Homo sapiens: one gene and its partners. The protein of the gene in region 1 purifies or fractionates together with the protein of each later gene. This does not show direct contact. Each region holds a gene or a part of one and is shown on either strand. Other genes may lie near its edges.

Region 1 (6,915 bases):
CACCTCCATTTTTATGTGAAAAGAGTCAGGGATTTAGGGCCATATTTTAAAACAGCTCAAGGAAGCTATTTCCTTATGGTTTATTGTAAAATAAACCTGCTGCAATCCTCAACACCAGACACACAGACAGCTTGTGAGAGGCGGCTGGGAAAGGCAGACAAAGGGCAGGGACTTGGAGCTCCTACCTGTCCCAGCTGGATCTGCAGGCCCGGGAGTGACTGTGTGGCACAGGCAGCACCAGGACCCTCCCTGCAGGACAGTGGACAAAGGGCTGAGGGGAGGGACAGCGCGATGCACTCTGAGGAGCTGGGAGGTGGAGGGTCCTCCTCAGAGCTCACCTCTGCGTAGCCCCCGCTGCGCCCCATGGTAACACGCATGCTGTGTTCCATGACTACCCTTTCCTACCGGGTCAAAACCATAACCCCAGGGCCCCGCCCAAGGTCCACACACACTGTGTCTGCTGAGGCCACCAGACACCATAAACATGTGTGAGAATATGTGTGCTGCTCCTGGAAGCTTCTCTCCTCTCACACCTACAACCCCACCCACAGCTTCTCCAGAATGTTTACCCCAGCCTAATGATGTCAAGGTTTTTATTGAGTCTAGACTCGCTTCAATATTCCCTAAAATTCAAATGCGTGTGTCTGAAAAAAACAGCTTCAGCTGCATCTACATATAGTGTCCACAGTGTGGACACTGATTGTCTACACTGGCTGCAATCAGTGGAAAACATCAGGCTGGGGTTGGGGACTATGGATCAACATGGAAGTGAAAGTACTGTAAAAAATCTGTAGGCATAACACCTTTTTTGTTTAAACCACAAAATTCTGCCAAGGTTCTGGTGCAGCCAAAAGAGAAAAGTGAAAAGGACCACAGGGAAGAATCTCTCTGTTCTAATTTGAGTTTGGAGTTTGAGAATCACCTGCCGAAGGATGGCGACAATGCCTAGGTGTGACCTCAGTACAGACTGAGACCCTGCTGGGGCTCTGGGCTGCTGAGTCCTGACCGCAGTCTATGGAGGAGGCAAGGATGGGAGCATGGCCATGAGGGAGACACAGAGCAACGTCCCAGCAGATGGTTCCCAGTCCTGCAGCCAAGAATGGCAGGGAAGGAGAGCACAAGACTGGGTTGGGGCAGAGAAGGCCACCCCTCCAGGGACAGGAGCCACCAGTGACTCTGAGCCAGCTGGAGGGTCTCTGTTCTCCCTCAGCTCCCCAAATCGCTCTGGGTGCTGCATGTAAAGCCACCGCCTGGGCCAGGACATATGTCTGTGGCAGAGCTGCTGCACCCGCTCTCCCTCTTCCTGGACAGTGGCCACGTTTCTGGAGGACACACTCATGGCCCCTCCAGCACTGTTGTAAAGATTCTGGGCATCAATTTGTCATCAGTGGGCTGACAAAGTCCCCTTGCAGTTAAAAACCAAATCCTCACCACTAGTGTCCTAGCCACTTTGCAGCTGGCCCTCCATGTACTGGGACATCGTGTCTTTGGAGACAGCTATACCCCACTTGTCCATTCTGCTGAGGCCCACAAATGCCATCACCCAGAAGCCCTTCACATCCACTGGGGCCACAGCAGGATACAGTCTGTTGCTGGTCCAGCAGGTGATCTCTCTAGTCCATGCCCGGGTCCCGGGTTCTGAGTTTCATGGGGAGGCCCTCACTACCACCCATCATAAGTCTCAGAGCCTCTGGACAAAGCACACCTGTCCTAACTATGAGCTTCTGCACATGTAGTCTTCCAGGGACCGTAGCTCCTTATGCCCTGCGTGGAGCAGGTGTTCTCTTTACGTGGCATTTCTTCACTATCTCCTTTAGAACCACACCTATCATTGATTCAGATGGAGGCTCCCACCTCAGGACATCACAACATGAGGGTGGGTTAAGGGAGTCTCATTTAGTCCATCGTCCCCAAGCCACCAGCCTCCTCAAGCAGCACGGTGGCCTCCTAAAGTCATGGTTATTAATGTCTCTGGATGTGCTATGGACACCCAAGGCACCAAGGTCCTTCCAAGGGCCGTCACTTTTTTAACTCTCAATCCCATGGCCACCACTGCCTCATCACAATTGGGCTAGACGCACTTTGGTGCCTATCTTGGTGATCACAGAAGAGTTAGCTTCTTTTTTCCCTTACAGATAACATCATTTACATGTTCTCCAATAATGAGACCTCCCCATATCATCACAGGACATCCACCATCTCAACATCAAACATATACTGAACAATGGACTGTGGATGGATAGTAAACTACGATCTTCTGAGGATAACCCCCCAGGCCCACTGGCACCCAGCAGGACCACGAGGCTTTTGTTAGACCACACCTCTCCATTTCACATGCAGCTTCTGGCAAAAGCTCCCTTTTTTACCGGTTTTAAAGGTTAGCTAATATTTCCCACTTACTTCTCCTGGCAGGAAGTAGGGATTATTGCTCCAGAACCCACCGAGGGTGCAGTCAGAGGCAGTAACGAGGAGAAGAAGCCTTCAAACTAGAGACACCAACTACGTCAGGCAAAGACCATATGGAAGTGCCATCACCAAACGTGGCCATGGGGGAGAAAGGCTCCAAGGAAAAGTGGGTGCCAGCCAACCCCATCATCAGTGTCAATATAGAAGCACTGGGAAGAAAGCCCTGAGTGACAAGATGTCAGTGTTCTCTATGATTGGCCTTGCTTGGTATCTTATGTACAAATGGCTTGTGGGGTAGCTGTTTAACCCAGGCCTGGCAGCCTAGAGGGCTGCTGGAACAGGACAGCCCTAGTCAGAATTTGTACCCCAGACTGGAAAACTGGGGAATTCCCTGTAAGCCCTGTTACAGGGGCTGCACCCCAGATACAACCTGACCTGTGTCCAAGGCGGGCAACTCAACCCTTAGATATTGAATGGGTCCCATGGCACCAATGCTTAAACACCAGCAGCCCTCACAACCACAGATCGTGTTTTAAGGATGAGGAGGTAGTTCTCTGGATGCACAGGCTTCAATCCAAATGGGCTCATGACGCCGCAGCACACACCCAGACTGCAGCCTGAAGAGTTGGAGCATTGCATTCACAGAAAGCATCCAGACATGATCATGGGCTCAGGGATACACCTGTTCTCCGATGTGTACCAGTGAAGGATGGAAACTCCTATGCCTCCCAGAAAGCACCACTCAAGCTTTTGCTGAATGCTTCTCTGAAGGCCCACAAGGCCTGAGAGGCTGTGCAACACCAGCAGTAAAGTGAATGCCCAGACTCCCACCTCCTTTCTTGGGTGGCCATCTGGAAAGGCCACTCCCACCCTGATGGCTAATGCCTCAGACCAGTTCTTGGCCCAGATGATCCTAGACAATTGTTTAAGCTTAAACTGTTCATTGGCCAAGCAAACAGGTGATAGTCACCTCTGGGGAACCACATGCCGCGTGTACATCCAGTACTCAGGAGAACCCAAAAATGTCTGTTCCACATAGCAACAGAAGCCCAGGTAGCACTCAGTCTCACCTGGGTGTTCTCCAACATCCCAGCTCAGCCAAATGGCTTTCATTAGTTTTTATGGTTAGACCCCAGGTCCTCGGGACACTGCTTTAGAAACACATTCCAAATCCTCCTCTGTGTGCAGGTGGCATTCCTATCCCAATCTCTTTGCAGGGCGTATACTGTGATACGCAGCCAGGCTGTCCCAGAGGCCTTAAATATTCCCTTGGTGCAGGTAGTTCAGCTTAGCCACAGCCAATGCATCACAGGGTCAACTGTGTTAGGAGCCATTGAGAATCCATAGTTGGTTGCTGCCTGGGCCTGGCCAGGGCTGACCAAGGTAGATGAGAGGTTCCTCTGTGGAGTTCTACTTTAACCTCACCTTCCCACCAAATTTCTCAACTGTCCTTGCCACCACAATTATTTAATGGACCCAACAGAAAGTAACCCCGGAAATTAGGACACCTCATCCCAAAAGACCTTTAAATAGGGGAAGTCCACTTGTGCACGGCTGCTCCTTGCTATAGAAGACCTGGGACAGAGGACTGCTGTCTGCCCTCTCTGGTCACCCTGCCTAGCTAGAGGATCTGTAAGTACTACAAAACTTAAACTTTACACTGAGTTTTCATTATTGAAGCTATGCCTCCAATCTGACCTCTGACTGTGGGGCCACCCCAGAGGGAACCAGCGGGCGAATCCCTGCTAGGAACGTCTGTCCGGACCTCTGGTGACTGCTGGGGACGATGGCTTCCAGCTAACTTAATAGAGAAACTCAAGCAGTTTCCTTCTAAACACACATGTCACATGTCCTGGTTGACATGTCCAGTAGAGACTATCACAGGTCTTTGGAACATTCTTTTGAGAGAAACCTATTTAGGTCCTTGGTCTGTTTTTCAATCAGGTTGTTTGATTTTTGCTATTGAGTTGTTGGAATTCCTTATGTATTCAGATATTTGCCCCTTCGGCCATGTAGGTTTTGCAAATATTTTCTCTCATTTTCTGGGTTATCTTTTCACTCGGTTGATTGTTTCCTTTGCTGTGCAGATGCTTTAGCGTTAAATGAAGCCACACTTGTCTATTTTCCCTTTTATTGCCTGTGCCTTTGGTGTCATAGCCAAGAAATCATTACCTACATCAATGTCAAAAGCTTTATCCTTCTATACACTTCTAGTAGTTTATGGTTTCAGTTGTTACATTTAGGTTTTCAATTCATTCTGAGTTGATGTTTCTACATGGTGTGAGATAAAGATTTAAATACATACATATATAAAATCATGAGGTAGTGTACACTATAAATATACAATTGTTAATTGTTACTCAAGTCTAAGTAGAGGTGGAAATAATAAACTTTCTTTTTTTTACTTAAACCACTCTGTGTCACTGAGCTGATTTCACCTTTAGCCTGATAAAATCATTGTCCTCTCCACCCTGATTCCTACAGGAGACTACTCACCCCATAACCTCAAAAACCTCTTCATGAGGATGGTAAGTCACCTGAATCCTGAAGTGAATTACTCGCTATTCCATTGGAACTCATATAGGACACCAGAATCTAGACCTCCAGAGAACAGCAGGACCCATCTTCAGAAAATAAGAAGCATTTGTTCCCTGAGCCTGTTGAATCAAAGTGCAATTTCTATTCTTTTTGGAATGTTAAAAAGTGAATCATAATATTTAAGCAGGTGAACCCACGAGTAACATAGCAGGGTCTTTCTTGTCATTATTAGCTCCAACCTAGCACAGACATTAAAGGTACAGATGTATACTAGCATGAAACTGGGAGAACAGGAGCATTCGAGCAACCTTGAGACCAATGGGCCTCTCTTATAAAATGCACACCTCCTCTCACTGAGATTGAGGAAGGTTTCTTGTCTCCGAGCCTTCTCCCAGTAGAGCTATAAATCCAGGCTGGCTCCTCCCTCCCCACACAGCTGCTCCTGCTCTCCCTCCTCCAGGTGACCCCAGCCATGAGGACCCTCGCCATCCTTGCTGCCATTCTCCTGGTGGCCCTGCAGGCCCAGGCTGAGCCACTCCAGGCAAGAGCTGATGAGGTTGCTGCAGCCCCGGAGCAGATTGCAGCGGACATCCCAGAAGTGGTTGTTTCCCTTGCATGGGACGAAAGCTTGGCTCCAAAGCATCCAGGTGAGAGAGGCAGGCATGCAGAGCTGCTAAGTCTAGAGGGAAGGACGGGAGAGAGGTTCCAGAGTTGGGTCTCAGCAGTCTATGTCACTGAGGTGGCTTCACTTAGAATCTCTGGGCATTGATTTTCTCATCTAGAAATTGAACAGAGAGCCAAATAAACATGAGAAACTTTATTTCTCCAAAGACTTGATTCCAAGAAACGTCTGTGAAATTCACTAAGTTTCAGATATGAAGAGACAGACTAGTTATTTCTGGATCTAAACAAGTAGACTTAGTTGTAAAGAGAACATTTTACTCTATCTACAGAAGAGCTTTTAAAAACTGCAGCCAAGCCTGAGGATATGTTCAGGTGTGTGTGTGATGGGGCAGGAATGCAAAAATGAGAGCAAAGGAGAATGAGTCTCAAATTCTGAGTGACAAGCACTGCTCTGCGTGTTTATTCCTATCGACTGAGGTTGTTCGTGCTAACGGCTGCAATGCAGCCAGCATCACCTGTCAGCTAGCATGTGACTTCCCCGAGATTCTTTTTCTTACCCACTGCTAACTCCATACTCAATTTCTCATGCTCTCCCTGTCCCAGGCTCAAGGAAAAACATGGCCTGCTATTGCAGAATACCAGCGTGCATTGCAGGAGAACGTCGCTATGGAACCTGCATCTACCAGGGAAGACTCTGGGCATTCTGCTGCTGAGCTTGCAGAAAAAGAAAAATGAGCTCAAAATTTGCTTTGAGAGCTACAGGGAATTGCTATTACTCCTGTACCTTCTGCTCAATTTCCTTTCCTCATCCCAAATAAATGCCTTGTTACAAGATTTCTGTGTTTCCACCTCTTTAATGTGTGATATGTGTCTGTGTCAAGACACTTGGGATACACGTACCAAAACGCAAAATCAAATTTTTGAACAATATAAAATTCCAAATTCTAGGAATTTCAAGCAGGAGTTTGGGCTTCAGATCCAAATTGAAAAGAAGGCCCATATGACACCACTGATTTCCCCACCCACTGCTCTGCCTTTTCACCCTGCCTCATTTTCTCTGGATCCACTCTCAAAGAGCTCGCGTGTGCTGGGCAAACAATCGGTGTCAGCTTACATTTCATGCAGTCACAAAATCATTACTTCTCCGGGAAAAAAAAACCATCCTCTGTGCTAAAGAATTGGAGTTTCATTGAACAATGTCAGATTGTACATTTTCCTTTTAAGACATAGGGTTACATGAGATCCACGGAAAAAACTTTCATTCAGAGGGAAATGGGTTGTTAGCAAAGGCGGGATACATGGAACAGAAAGCACAGCATCTCACATTGGCACGTCCTCATTAAGAGG
Region 2 (7,079 bases), on another chromosome or scaffold:
CTTTTCCTCACTCTAGGAAGAACTAGAAAGAGAGGGATTAATTTATTTTTGAAACACTAGTTTCCAATGAGCAAAATTAAGAATAATTTTTTTTTAATGTGGATTTCCTGATTCTCTTAAAAAGTAGGAAAATCAGGCAACACCACACCTTCCTTCCCAGCAGCAACACTTTGCTGAAGCTGTGCGTGCTCTTTCAGGCTGTGCTCTGGGTGCACAGGCCCCAGTACTCCCTGGCACTGTGCTTCAGCTCGGCTTCTGCAGGCTTCTGCATTTAACTCCCTGATGGACAAGATCAAGGAGTCTTCCAAAATGTCCAAAATAAACAACTGATTCCAGGCCGGTGCAGTAGAGGTTTCAAAATTCAAATGCAGAATGTTTTGAAGCAAGCTGGAATGTTCAGCCCGGGCACCAGACATTGCTGACTGGGGACTTCGGTGCACTCCTCTCCTTTGACATCTCTCCTTCCCTTAGGACTCTCTCTTTCTCTCTCTCTCTCTCTCTTTCTTTCTTTCTTTCTCTCTCTCTTTCTTTCTTTTCTTTCTTTCTCCTTCCTTCCTTCCTTCCTTCCTTCCTTCCTTCCTTCCTTCCTTCCTTCCTTCCTTCTCTCCCTCCCTCCCTTCCTTCCTTCCTTTCTTTCTCTCTGTCTTTCTTTCTGACAGAGTTTCGCTCTTGTTGCCCAGGCTGGAGCTTGTTGCCCAGGCTGGAGTGCAATGGCACGATCTTGGCTCACTGCAACCTCTTCCTCCCGGGTTCAAGAGACTCTCCTGCCTCAGCCTCCTGAGTAGCTGGGATTACAGGCATGCACCACCATGGCCGGCTAATTTTTTGTATTTTTAGTACAGACAGGGTTTCTCTATGTTGGTCAGGCTGGTCTTGAACTCCCAATCTCAGGTGATCTGCCCACCTCAGCTACCCAAAGTGCTGGGATTATAGGGGTGAGCCACTGTACCCAGCCTCCAATTCACTTCTCTGCCTGCTGATGAACTCCTGAAGGGGCCACCATCACATCACTGTTCAGGACTCATTTAATCGTTTCTATGTCTGGAGGGCAGAGGCATTCTTTTAAATTATACTTTTGTCTCCCCATCCAACACTTTGCACAGTTCTTTGCATATCGTAGATGTGGAAATTAGAAAGAATGCCATGCTGGGAATCAGCCATAACACATCTGGGTGGTGATGGAAGTCAAGGGTTGAAAGATCATCCAGAAGGATGCAAGGGGCCAAGTAGTATGAAGAGGGGCAGGTTGAGATTGAAAGAACGAGTAATAGAGAAGGGATAATTGAGTATAGGGGTTCAAGGATGAAGGCCTAGGCAGAGGCCTCAGAAAGTACAGTCTTGCACCTTGATGGGGGTACACCTTGGTGGGGGTCAGAGAGTTCCAAAGCAGGCTGAGATGCCCCTTCTGGAAGATTCCTTGACTCTTCTCTTTCTCTCCCCCTCCATATTCAGTTCTTCAGAGAATTTCATTGACTCTGCTTTCTAAATGCTTTCAGACTCCACCCATTTCCACAACCTGCATCAGCACCACCCTAGTTTAAGCTGTGATCATCTCTCACCTGCGCAATGGAAAGAACCTCCCATCCAGTGTCCCTTGTCCACCCCTACCATCTGATGCTCTATTCTTACCCAGCAGCCAGAGTGAGCCAAGCTCCTCAGGTTAGAAGGTCCTACTAGATTTGGCCTCTTTGACCTCTCTGATCACATTCCTCCTTCTCCTTCTGTTTTATGCCATTTCAGACACACTAACACACCTTTAATTTTCTGAACATGTTATGGGGCTTTGCACTTGCTGTTCCCTGCACTTGGAATCTTCTTACTCCAGAAATCTCCAGCGCTCACACACTCCCTGTAATCAGGTCTCGCTCAAATGTCACTTCCTCTGAGGGGTCTTTTCTGACCACCTCACCTAGCAAAGAGTCCTTCTTCCCACTGGAACCCCCAAACATACACACTATTTCTTTTCCTTTCTGTTTTTTATTTGTTTGTTTGTTTGTTTTGGAGATACTCTCGCTCTGTTGCCCAGGCTGGACTGCAGTGGTGTGATCTCAGCTCGTTGCAACCTCTGCCTCCCAGGTTCAAGCGATTCTCATGCCTCAGCCTCCCAAGTAGCTGGGACCACAAGTGTGCACCACCACGGCTGGCTAATTTTTGTATTTTTTGTAGAGACAGGGTTTCGCCATGTTGGCCAGGCTGGTCTCGAACTCCTGACATCAAGTGATCCCCCTGCCTTGGCCTCCCAAGGTGCTGGGATTATAGGCATGAGCCACTGTGCCCGCCCACACATTTCTATACTCCACTTTTCTTCAGAACACGTTACATTATATTATATACTTGTTTCATTGTCTGTGTTTCCCACCAGAATGTAAGCTTCATGAGAGCAGAGACTTTTCTTAACACGTAGTAGGTGCTCAATAAATAAATGAAGGAGTCTAGCAAATGGGAACTGAGAGCTGCCAGAGTCACGGGTGTCTCTGGGAAAGAGGTAATAATTAACACACAAGGAAAGATTCCTGGTTGGGCACAGTAGCTCATGCCTGTAATCTCTGCACTTTGGGAGGCTGAGGCGGGCAGATCACCAGGTCAGGAGTTCAACACCAGGCTGCCCAACATGGTGAAACACTGTCTCTACTAAAAGTACAAAAATTATCCGGGTGTGGTGGTGCACGCCTGTAGTCCCAGTGACTCAGGAGGCTGAGGCAGGAGAATCACTTGAACCCGGGAGGTGGAGGTTGCAGTGAGACAAGATTACACCACTGCATTCCAGCCTGGGTCACAGAGTGAGAACCTGTCTCTTAAAATAAAATGAAAAATAAAACGTATATCTGATAACCATAGTCCCTTACTCAACACCTTCAGTGGCTTCCCAATGGTCCCAACCCCTTAACACACCATACAATGCCCTCTAGGTTCTGGCACTCGATTTCTTCTCAGCTCATTTCTTGTCACTTCTCTCCTACAGTCAAGTTTGGGCCCAGCAGACTGTCCTGGTCCTCTAACTGGGCTCCTTTCTGGGCCTGCAGAGGTGCTGTTTCTTCAGTCTGCGATTCCTTACCTCCCCTCTGTCTCTTCCTCTGCTGCTGCCTTCTGTTCTTTGGCATTCAACCGAGTTTTCCTTTCCTCTGAGAAGCCTGGGACCTACCCCGACCAAAGCTCCCTCCTCCTTGCCCCTCCCCCAATAACACAGGGTTGGGGTCTCTGCATTTGCTTCCTCAACACTGTACTTTTCTTGTCATGTCTATTTTATGGTCTGTGTCCCCACTAGACTGCAAGTTGCATGAGGGCAGGGCGGTCTATTCTGCTTTGGTCGCCTCGTGACGGTGTCTACCCAGCAAGTTGTGTGTGTTGGGTAAGTAGTGAGAAAACGAAAAAGCACTTGCTTTACAGGGCGGTTGGTCATAAAATAATAATAGCTTATATTTACTGACCACTTGTGATGTATCAGGCACCATTCTAAATGCTTTACAAGTATGTCACAGATTTCTCCCATAACCCTCTTAAGTAAGGGTTATTTCCTCCACATAGCAGATGGGGAAATTGAGGCACAGAGAGGTTAAGTAACTTGCCAAGGGCCACAGCGAGGAAGTGGAGGAACCGGCGTTAGAACCCAGGCTGTTTCCAGAGTCCAAATTCTATCCAAGAGTGAAGTGCAATATGGGGTTCCACTTCGTGAACAGATTCAAGTCTCCAAAGGGCTTTGTTTTTGTTTCCAGGAGGAAGGACGAGCTTCTGTGCCGCCGGCTTCCCAGGTTATGGGTGGCCAGCTGGGCTTTGGGAAGGGCCTGTACATCTCGCCGGCGGCCCCGGAGTCTGGGTGTGAAGCCCTGATTAACTTGCCGGGCTGCTCGGCCCACACGCCAGCCCTGCCCAGGTCCTCCGGTGCCCCGGGCCACCCTCATGCCCCCGCCAGGCCCGGGGCCGGGACTCGCGTCTCCAGGGGCGGGGCCGGGGGCGGGGCCGGGCCTCTCTTCGAGGCCGCCGCCCTGGCCCCGCGCTCGCCTCGCCGAGTGCGGCGGGCCGGGCTGGAGCTGGAGGGGCGGGGACTCGGGAGGGGCCGCAGCGCGGCTGCTGGTGCCGTTGCGGGAGAAGAGGAAGCGGCGCGTCCCCTGAGGCGTGCGCCTGGATGGACTGAAGGACGGTCCGACGCGCGCGGAGGGAGAGGGCCAGGGGCGAGGTCAGGCTCGGCGGGGGCGCGGGCGGCGCCCGGAGGGGGCCCCGGGGAGGGAGGCGGGGAGGCGTGGAGCGGGGAGCGGGGAGCGGGGAGTGGGGAGCGGGCCCGCGCCGGCTGAGCTCCGGGTCGGGCCCGAGACCCCTCCCCTGGCTGGGCGGGCGCGCTGCGAGCGCGCTCCGGCAGCTGAAAGCGGAGCTCCGGACTCCCTTCTTCCCCGGTTTCTTTTCTTTCCAATCAGCGAGATATAAACACCCTGCAAGGTAAAACAATAGCGGGGCCACCTGGGACGCGTCGCGCGCAGAGCTCCCACGGTTGGGGCGGGGGCCGGGAGTCGCGGCCCCACCGCGGAGCCCCTTCCCGATTTGCCCTGGCGGAGGGTGGGGCTACCTGCGGCGCCCGGGCTCGGTAGGAGGTGACGGGAATTCCCAGGAGTGAAGCATTTGGTGGAAGTATTTCAGGAACAATCGGGCTTCCCACTGTTGCCCTGCTCTGGGCAGGGAAACTGAGGCGGAGGGAAAGACAGAGACTTGCCCAAGGTCAGAATGCAGAGGTTGACTGTCCTGGTCCAGGAACCGGACCCAGGTGTCCGGACCAGCTCAGCGCTCAGCCCCAGTGGGTTTTGCAGCTTTGCCTTTGATAAAAATCTCTGTTGTGTTTGTTTTAGAAATCTGCTCGCGCTGGGGTACCGCTTCAGGGCTGCCGAACGCCAACTTGCTTCGTGTGCCCTAGGCAGGCGTGGGGCAGGTGGCGCCTCCGTGACCTACCACCATGGATGGAAACGGACTTTTTGGTGAAGAAACCCAAACGGTTGATGCCAGGCAGGGTGATTTGGCCGTCAAAGGTTTTGACGAAACCTGCCCTGTTCTCTCTGGGGAATCCGAATGAGGGAGATCACAGACACCTTCACTGAGAAGCCAAGGACATTTCTGTATAATCAGTGGATGAAAGGATTTTCTCAGACCCTTTTTTCCGTGCTTCTGGAGGATTAATCCACTACAGTCTGCAATTTCAGTGGAAACTGCAAGGCACACGATGTGGCAGGAGCCGGGAGCGACTTCCGAATTGTTGTGGACCCTTCCTGTAGCATAGGGGAGTTTTCACACTTGCCTCCACTCCTCCCCTTCCCCCCAACTCCCTCCTTCTGATCTCTTCTTTTTAATCTGTTCCCATTTTCCGAGTTAAGTTCTATTTCCAAAACTGTTCTCTGGAGCTATAAGTGGATTGCCAGAAATGAGAGATTAGGAGCTGGGAGAAGAGGAAGCGCCTTGTGTTGTGTCTCCTGGAGGCTGCCGACATGAAGTGCTTTTTCCCGGTGCTGAGCTGTCTGGCTGTGCTGGGTAAGTGGCTCTGCTTATCAGTGCAATCGATGTGAAAGTTTAACCTGCTCTTGGTTCCTGTAATTTCTCGTGGTTCTTTTTCATCAACACTAGGATTTGGGGGACACCAGGAGGCGGTCGGTGTGTGTCACAGGTTGGAGTAGAGTACGAAGAGGCCCGTTTCTAACCCAAGAGCAACGGTGGAATATCATTTGTTATCTATAAGAAGGAACATTTGCTGTTCTTAAAGTGTCTGTCTTGGCCCCTGGGGTGAGGTCCTGCATCTGCACATCTGTGGTTTAGGGACTTCACATGGCTGGTGGGCTGCTGTCTTGTAGCATGTCAAACATGGATGCTCTGGTGTTTTCACTTCTTTGTTGGGCTGCATTGATTCCTAATTGGGAGTGGGAACATCATTCCCCTCTGTCTCGAAAGTTGGTTTGGGTGATAATGATGGTGCCTTTTTTGAGGTGGAAATGGGAGTAAGTGGGATGGGGGTTGAAGGGATGCTTTGCCTACCTGAGTGGTCTGAAGGCTAAAAATGTGAGGGCACTAGTCCTGTGTCTCCTCACCAAGGAAGCTTAGATCGTAGTTCTGGGAGAAGGAGAGCCTGAAGAAAAGGAAGCTGCCTGGTAGGGGAGATTTTAGGATTGGCTTTTGTGCTCCCACAAATCAGAATGCCTAGAGTGGGAAGAAGAAACTATGGCCCTGAGAGGTGAACCTTTGACACCCCTCTTAAGGTGCAGATGCAGGACCTTCACCCCAGTGAAGAGGCCCCTCTGCTCAACAATTGCCTATTCTTTTTATGCCATTGAGCACTGTCTTCAGCGTGCTGTCTTAGAACACATCTCAGGTCTAGGATAAACTTCATTGCCAGGATTTGGTGCCATTCTCTTTCCCCATCTCAGACCTCATACATGAGCACACCCCCTGCCCTCTCTGTAAGGCTCGGTCCTCTGCATTCAGAAGGGATTATGATTGTTGCCTACAGGGTTCACGTCTCCAAATCTAGGTGTCTTGCACGTAGGGAACTTAGGGTGATCTGTTGGCAGTGGAGATTGCTTCCATGCATTGTCTACACCCTTGCAGTAGGTAACAGGTGTGTGGGAAGAGAATGGACTTTAGAATTAGAGGACCTGAGTTCCTATCCCAGCTTCACCATGATTGACATCTGAATGTCAATAAAACAGAAACAATAAAACAAGGGAAGGTGTGATAACTAAAGGATATAAGGTGTCCTAAATGCCTTGACTGCCTTAAATAATGTCTGAAACTCATAATAGATTTGTGCAATCAGTGGTTCTCAAACTCTCGTGTGCATGTTGGAATCACTGGGGAAGCTTTTAAAAATTCTGATTTCAGGCAACAACCCCAGATCAGTGAAACCAAACTCGCTTAGGGAGTGGGACCCAGGTCTCAGCCTTTGAGCTATCTCAGGTAATTCCATGCATGGTTCAGTAGAGAACCAGTGGGTGAGTTCACTAGCGCCAGTGCCCTACCACCCAACGCATGCAGACACCCTGCTGGTAGTTTAGTTAGTCTTCTGTTCAGCTGTGGGCTGGGATACAGGCAGTGTCTCCATGTCACCTGTA
Region 3 (7,173 bases), on another chromosome or scaffold:
TAAACTGGGTCATCCTATGAAATCTCCCAAGGCCCACAACCAGAGTGTAATCTCAGGATTAAAACCTGCTACAAGCCCCAGAGAGCTTGCTGCCTCCACAATAAGTACTACTGCACTCAAGAAGCAACGAAAGTCTGACCCATATTAATTGTGTTGTTCAAAACATTTCAGGACAAACACATTAAACACTTCTCTCTATCCTACCAAACCCAGACATGCCAGTTAGCAAAAACAACTCCTATCACATCAACCTCACAGTTTCTCGCTCTCTCTTCCTGATCCAGTACCTGGTAGACAAAGCAAATAGTAGGTGCTTGGCAACCATATAGGAACTTGACATCAATGACATGCAGCTCCTCCAGGCGGATGTTGAAGGCCTTGAGTTCTTTATTATCGCGATCTAGTGGAATAACCTTGAAAAGGCCATCATAGAGACGCAGGCCAATCATCCGGCACTCAGGGTCAATGATGCCAATAATGCCGGTCTCTGAGGGGCGGCCAATGCGGTCCTGAGAAACAAAATCGGGATTAGGGAAGAACCTCAACATCCACAGAGCAACAGAGGACGCTGGGCACCACTTGTGCAGAAAAATTTTAGGAGAGGTATTAAAACTAATGGATCTATTTGATAGGCCAAATAGTTGGAGCCCCAATGTCAGTGCATGCCTTTTTCATGAAACACTGAATCTCAATGAATTATTACCCTGTCCCTTGGGTCTTGAGTGAACTACAGGAGTCCTTTCTCCAAAAAGCTCAAACCCATAGTGTCTTCTCCTTATTTCTCTGATCGAATAGAGAGCTGCCCCCAGCACTTTAATTTTTTCCATGAATCATGACAGCCCTACTTAGAAAACTTTCATTGGCCTAAAGCAGCCACCTCACCTGGACATTGCCATGGGCTCGCGTAATGATGTCAATGCTCTCGCCACTCTGTTTATACTCCAGGATGCAGGCATTGTACTTCGCTGTCAAGATAAACAGCAGGTCCTTGCTCTCCCCCTGGAAACCAATATTATGCTATCAAAAGAGGTTCTTTTTAAAACAGGAACAACCTGTCCAGTCTTTAAGCACACCAAATTCTTTAAGAATTTTCCAAATTCTTCTCTCCCTAAAGAGAAAATACATGGTGAGCTTGTAACCCACACTAGGTACACATACACCCTAAGGGCATGTACAAAAAGCCAGAACTGAAGCTGGTAAACATCTAGTTCTCACTTTCATGATTCTCCATCTCTCTGTTCTACAAACAAAGTCTTCATCTATTTCAATCTCAAGCTAATCTCAATCATCCCATTCAAATTCTGAAAGATGAATGTAATGCCTCCTCCACTCCTCCCCAAGTATTTGAAGAAAGAGGAAAAAAAATGTGGGAATAACAACGGAAGCTAAAATGGATCAACAAAGTCCTACTTATTTAACACAGACTCCAAAAAATTGCTGTTTTGTTCAAAGGGTTATAATTAAAATTTTGAACCCACTGCTTTCTTGCCAGATTCAGTTAAGACAACATAAAGCAATGTGGTGGTGATTTGGATGAAAACATTTGCGCTAAAATAATGAAAATACTGATGGTAATTGTTTTTTTTGTTTGGTGTTTTTTTTTTTGGAGATGGAGTCTCGCTCTGTCACCGGGCAATGGGCGCCATCTCCACTCACTGCAACCTCCGCCTCCTGAGTTCAAGCAATTCTTGTGCCTCAGCCTGCCAAGTAGCTGGGATTACAGGCACGTGCCACCACACCCGGCTAACTTTTGTATTTTTAGTAGAGATGGGGTTTCACCATGTTGGCCAGGCTGGTCTCGAACTCCTGACCTCACGTGATCCACCCACCTCGGCCTCCCAAAGTGCTGGGGTTACAGGCGTGAGCCACCATGCCCGGCCTGGTAATTGTTAACATAACTGTAAATGCTTGCTATATGATAGGCCCTATGTTACTGAATCATTTCATCGTCACAACAACCCAGGGGATTTGATCTGAAAGGTGCCTTAAGTGGCACCTAAAGTCAGAATTAACAAGAAATGAAGCCAGGACTGCCCCACTCTGTAGCCTATCCTCTGAAACAAACTGCTTTAATTTCTCCCTTCTAAAGAAGTCAACTTCATAAATGTTTCCCTAATGAATCTCTCCTTTTACTTCTAGAAAGCTTGGTCAAGAGTACATACTGAAATTTGCTATCCAAAGAGAGAAAAAAGAGAAGAGTTTTTCTCCTAAAGCATATTCCACCCATCCCAAGAATTCGCAAAACAACCTAACACAGCCCAAGCACGGTGGCATGCCTACAATACCCCAGCTACTCTACTCCAGAGGCTAAAGTGGAGGGATTGCTTGAGCTCAGGAGTTCAAGACATCCTGGGCAACACTGTGAGACCCCCGTCTCAAAGAAAATAAATAAACAAACAAAAATAACATAAAACAACCTACGACCAACAGTTCCCCCTCCACTGCTTGTCCCAACTGCAACACTTACCTTGGGCCTGAAAAGCTCCATGACCGCAATCTTCCCATACATGCCCACCTCTTTGACGGGCCGAAGCCCCTCGGCGGTGACCACATAGATCTCTAATCTCGTGTTTTTGGCAATCAACAGGTTTAAGTCTTCGGCCGAAGTAAAGTGTCCTGAAAGAACAGACCCTCTAACTTTTGAACTCAGGGGAAGGGCCTCCCATCCCTTCAAAATAATCCTATCACTTATGTCTAAATACCTCCAGAATTCTCATTTACTTCACATACTTCTCCAACTCCCTCCAGCTACTCCCCTTCTTGCCAAATCCGGCACCTCAAAGAGTCTCAGTTCATGCATTCAACAAAGCTACTTCCCTAATCAGACTAAGAAAACTGGACTGGACCTAAGAGCCGTGTGTCCTCCAAATGACAATGACTGCGTAATCCCTTCTCATGCCTCTTGCCCCTCCAATTTTACTCTATTACAGTTACAGTGGCAGGCTCTAATTGAGAATGCCGGAGAAAGTGTTCACTTCTTCCAGTCTTCATCTAAAGTCTCACAAAACTTTTATCTGACAGACCAAGTCAAATGAAGAAGTCCCAGAGCTTTATATGAAAACACTGTTTTGTCCACACCCCCTGCCCTCCTGGCAGTCTACCAATACCTCCATCCACACTCAGCTACCTCCAACTCTGAACAACAGTTTTGTTTTGGAATCATGATTAGGGTGTATATAAACATGCAAGCTTGGGGTCTGCATATTCAGCTGAGAATGTGGGTTAAGATGACTCTTCCCGGGTTCTGAACATCGGTGTCCTTAACAATCCAAGCGCATCGTCAACAAGGCAAACCCAGCACTGGGCCAGGCAAACCAAACCCTCTTCTCCAGCAGGGCCCTCATGTAAACAACAGCCCCAGGCAAAGGGGTTAGCCTGAAGAGGGCTCCTCTCCCTCTGTGGGATAATGCGGGCATTCCTCACATCCCTCCACCTCCTGGGCCCCCCAGACTTCCCCACAGGAAAATCTTGACCCCAAAGTCGTCATTACCACCTCCCCTTTTCCTGGCCACAGAAAGCCAATCTCCGGGCCCAAACGACACCGCACAACCAACTCACACTCCTCTGTCTCACTGGGCCCGCCCTGTTCTCGAGGCCGAATGACCTCCCCAGGACGAAAGGGGACCCTCGAGAGCGGCTTCCAACCCCCAAAAAGCGCGTACAGGGACGACTCTTTCGAGGTCGCGGTGCTGGGGGAGGTTCCTCGGCCGCCAGCGCCTTCCATTCGCCGGGCCCACTCCTGCCCGGCCGCCCCCGGGGCGGCGGGCCTCCCTAGGCCGCGGCTCCCCCCAACTCCCTCACTCGCCGGGGTCTCCGGCCCCGGCAGCCTCACCGGTCACGCAGCCGTTCACGGCGGTGGGCTTCTGGGCCGTTACCACGTAGTTGTACGACATGTCGAGGCTTGGAGCGGCCCGTCGGGACTCGAGCGCGACACTAGAAAGAGGGACACAAGCGAAAAGACAGGTGGCCCCCAACAGCGCGCAGCGAACTCCACTGCCGCTGCCTCCGCCCCAGAGACACGTTGCAGGCCAGAGCGGCCGGGGCGCGGGGCATCACGGGACGGCCTCACCTGGCCTCTTGGAGGACTCCCGAAGCCCGAGGCCGCCAACCGAAGGAGGCCCCGCCCCCGGAGGCACCGCCTCGCCTCTTTCCGCCAGCGCCCGCAGGACCCGGATGAGAGCGCACGCTTCGGGGTCTCCGGGAAGTCGCGGCGCCTTCGGATGTGGCGGATGCGGCCGTGAGCCGGCGGGGGAGGTGCGCCAGTGTCCTCCGAGCTCGCCCGCAGACTCCCCACCCCGTTCCGCGCCCTTTGCCCTTCCCCGCATCCAGTCCTCCTTCCGTTGCTCCAGGAGCCCTCGGGCTGTTCCTCCTTTGGGAACGGGAAGGACTGCGGAGGCATAGAGAGGGAAGGGAGACCGCGATTCGTGCATATCCCAGACTAGAACCTTGCCTGCTTTCCTTTCACTGTCTCAGTTCCTCCAGATCCAGCTGGTGCCCTCGCCTGACGTTTGAACGACCACCTGCTCACCTCCTCCCTTTTGCGCGTTGATTCTTCAGACTTCAAAGGGCCCACCGGTCTGCTTGCCCAACGTTATTAGTGCCCCTATTGCTCTACAAATTCGAACCTCAAACACAAAACCAGTATTTCTCCGTAGGGAACCTTAATGAGCCAGGAGAGCCGTCAGCCCTGCAGCCTCCAGGGTACCCCACATCAAACAGGCTCCCCGGGAACAAGAGGAATACCACGTGGCTTGGCACACTCGCAGAATGCCAGAGAGGAGCCAACCCCCATTTTACAGATGAGGAAGCTGAGGCTTAGGGAGGAATTGGTTTACCTAAGACCCTCCCCACAACCCCAAGTAGGCTGAGGCAGAGCTATGTTGATTCTTCCTATTGTGCACCCACACAGAGGCCAACACGCTGCTGAACCAGGCTGAACTGAGGAAAAGCTAGAAAGTCATCGTGGTTTACATCTTGCCTTTCCCATAGCAGAGACTCTGCCTGACTTTGGAGGCACTGAATTATCAGTAGTAAAAACACACTCTGTAGAAAAACTAGACATTGGTTTAGATTCTGGCTGTTACCTGTATTACCTTGGACAAGTCCCTAGAGCTCTCTGAGTCTGTTTCCCAGAAGTAAAATGGGTCACAAACCTGGCTAGCTCCCCCCATTCCCTTCCCTTTTGGTGCCAAGGCCAGTGAGGGCAAGCGTGTGACGAGCTTTGTTAACTTTTTCGCTGCATGTGATGCCCGTGTAAAAGATAGTTATTCTGAGGATCACTGTCCTTTAGTGATGAAGTGGGTGCTGTTCCTGGACATAAAGGCAGACCTGTGCTTGACATGGATTGATCTGTCTTCTGGCAGTGAAGTGCAGGCATGAACCTTGGTCAGCCCCACACTCTTCTCCATCCGTAGCCCATGTACTAGAGTTTGGACTTGGACCGAAGTCTGGGGCAGCTCCCTAATTACTAGGGTGCTGAAGGCGTGATTGTGCCAGTCGACTGCGAGTTCCTTCCGCAGCTTGTATCGTTACCCACTCCTGCAGGTGCTGCTGCTGCCTCCACTGTACTCAGACCCAGGTAGCACAGGATTGTCCATCCTCCAGCAGCTCAGTGCAACGGTGTGAACTCAGCCTGTTTCAGAGCCTCCACACCATGGTGAGTCATACAGGGCCGGGACGGGAATGGCAGCATGGTCTCAAAGCAGGATCCCAGCCTTGGGCAAGCTAAAGCTCCTTACACTTTGACTGAGAGATGCTATTGCCTCCTGAGGCTCACGGGTGAAGAGAGAGGGTCATCCTCTCTCCCAGGGTCTGATCCCTGCTTTTCTTTGTTTCCTGGAGGCTGCTGGTCCCAGCCAGGCCTGGGGCTGCAGCCTCTTGAGTCCCTTCAGAGCCACTCTGCCCCTTATCTGGGTCTTGCATTCAGAGTAAAACAGTAACAGTTACCTGCTCTGTAATAGACATTGTACCGGTCACAGAAGGAATCGTGAAGAATGACCATGTGACCGTTCCTAACCTTGGGGCTTATGTGGGCCGGTCTGGAGCTGGGATCTACAGTGTGGGAGGCTGGCCATGTCCCTGGGCTTTGCTCCAGGCCCACTGATTTGAACCAAAACAAGCCTTGAACATATCTGGATTCAAATTTCAGCCTGCCACTGACCAGCTGCATGACCTTTTACAGACCTCTCTGCGCCTCTTTTTCTTCATCTGCATTATAAGGCAAATTAAGGCCTACCTCCAGTGGTTGTGTGGTGTTGATCAAGCAGAGTCCTGGAGGCCTCACTTGACTTCCTTTCCTTTTCCATCCTTTCAGGCCACTGAAACCAGGGATAGCACTGGTCCCTAAACCCTCTTCTGGCTCTGTAAAAGACAGATTATCATGATGGGGAGCAGGCCACTTTCTTGGAGGGTAGTGCTGCTGGAGGCTGGGCTTGGAGTGAGGCCAACTCACAACTTCATTGTGTGTTCCAGTCCCTGGTAGGCTCTGAGAGCCACAAACCCATGTCCTTTCTAGGGCAACCTCTGTCACCCTCCACTTCCCTCCAGCCCCTCGAGAAAGCAGCATGATATGGCCAAAAGGGAACCAGCTTTGGAGCCAGGCAGACCTGGACACCTGCTGGCTGTGTGACCTTGGGCAAAATAGTTTAACTGTGCCTCAGTTTCCTCACTGGGCTCATCTTTCCTCCATAGGGCTGTTGGGAAGTTTTGTTTTGTTTTAGTTTGGGTTTTTTTTTTTGAGACGGAGTTTTGCTCTTTTTGCCCAGGCTGGAGTGCAATGGCGCAATCTCGGCTCACCACAACCTCCGCCTCCCAGGTTCAAGCAATTCTCCTGCCTCAGCCTCCCGAGTAGCTGGAATTACAGGCATGTGCCACCACGCCCAGCTAATTTTGTATTTTTAGTAGAAATGGGGTTTCTCCATGTTGATCAGGCTAGTCTCGAACTCCCAACCTCAGGTGATCCACCCGCCTTGGCCTCCCAAAGTTCTGGGATTATAGGCATGAGCTACCACACCCGGCCTGTTGGGAAGATTAAATGAGACATGCTCAAAAACACTTAGAACTGGGCCTGGCTCTTAGTCACTGCTCAGCAAATGGAACCAATCTTATTGTTCTTCTTGCTCCCTACAGACCTAGGCTACTCTGAAGCAGGTGGCTTAGCCCTGGCCCTGGCTG

Evidence for each region. Proteins that work in one complex are often made in the same cells at the same time.
Region 2: the proteins of DEFA1 (region 1) and IGSF3 purify together in Homo sapiens (affinity purification with mass spectrometry, with the first as the bait; 2 studies listed by BioGRID). This does not show direct contact.
Region 3: the proteins of DEFA1 (region 1) and TKFC purify together in Homo sapiens (affinity purification with mass spectrometry, with the first as the bait; 2 studies listed by BioGRID). This does not show direct contact.

The regions. Positions count from the first base shown.
Region 1 is NC_000008.11:6,977,136-6,984,050, reverse strand, and holds DEFA1 (neutrophil defensin 1 preproprotein), read left to right. Parts: upstream 1-3,958; 5' UTR 3,959-4,038; intron 4,039-4,890; exon of another isoform or gene 4,891-4,925; coding exon of another isoform or gene 4,926-4,934; intron 4,935-5,404; coding exon of another isoform or gene 5,405-5,416; coding exon 5,417-5,591; exon of another isoform or gene 5,592-5,722; intron 5,723-6,171; coding exon 6,172-6,281; 3' UTR 6,282-6,402; downstream 6,403-6,915.
Region 2 is NC_000001.11:116,664,713-116,671,791, reverse strand, and holds the start of IGSF3 (immunoglobulin superfamily member 3 isoform 2 precursor), read left to right. Parts: upstream 1-4,058; 5' UTR 4,059-4,174; intron 4,175-4,323; exon of another isoform or gene 4,324-4,431; intron 4,432-4,835; 5' UTR 4,836-5,465; coding exon 5,466-5,508; intron 5,509-7,079.
Region 3 is NC_000011.10:61,329,076-61,336,248, forward strand, and holds the start of TKFC (triokinase/FMN cyclase), read left to right. Parts: upstream 1-4,152; 5' UTR 4,153-4,254; exon of another isoform or gene 4,255-5,544; 5' UTR 5,545-5,653; coding exon 5,654-5,656; intron 5,657-6,764; exon of another isoform or gene 6,765-6,862; intron 6,863-7,128; exon of another isoform or gene 7,129-7,173. Other genes in the region: DDB1 (DNA damage-binding protein 1), read right to left, coding at 288-509, 883-999, 2,468-2,616, 3,833-3,893.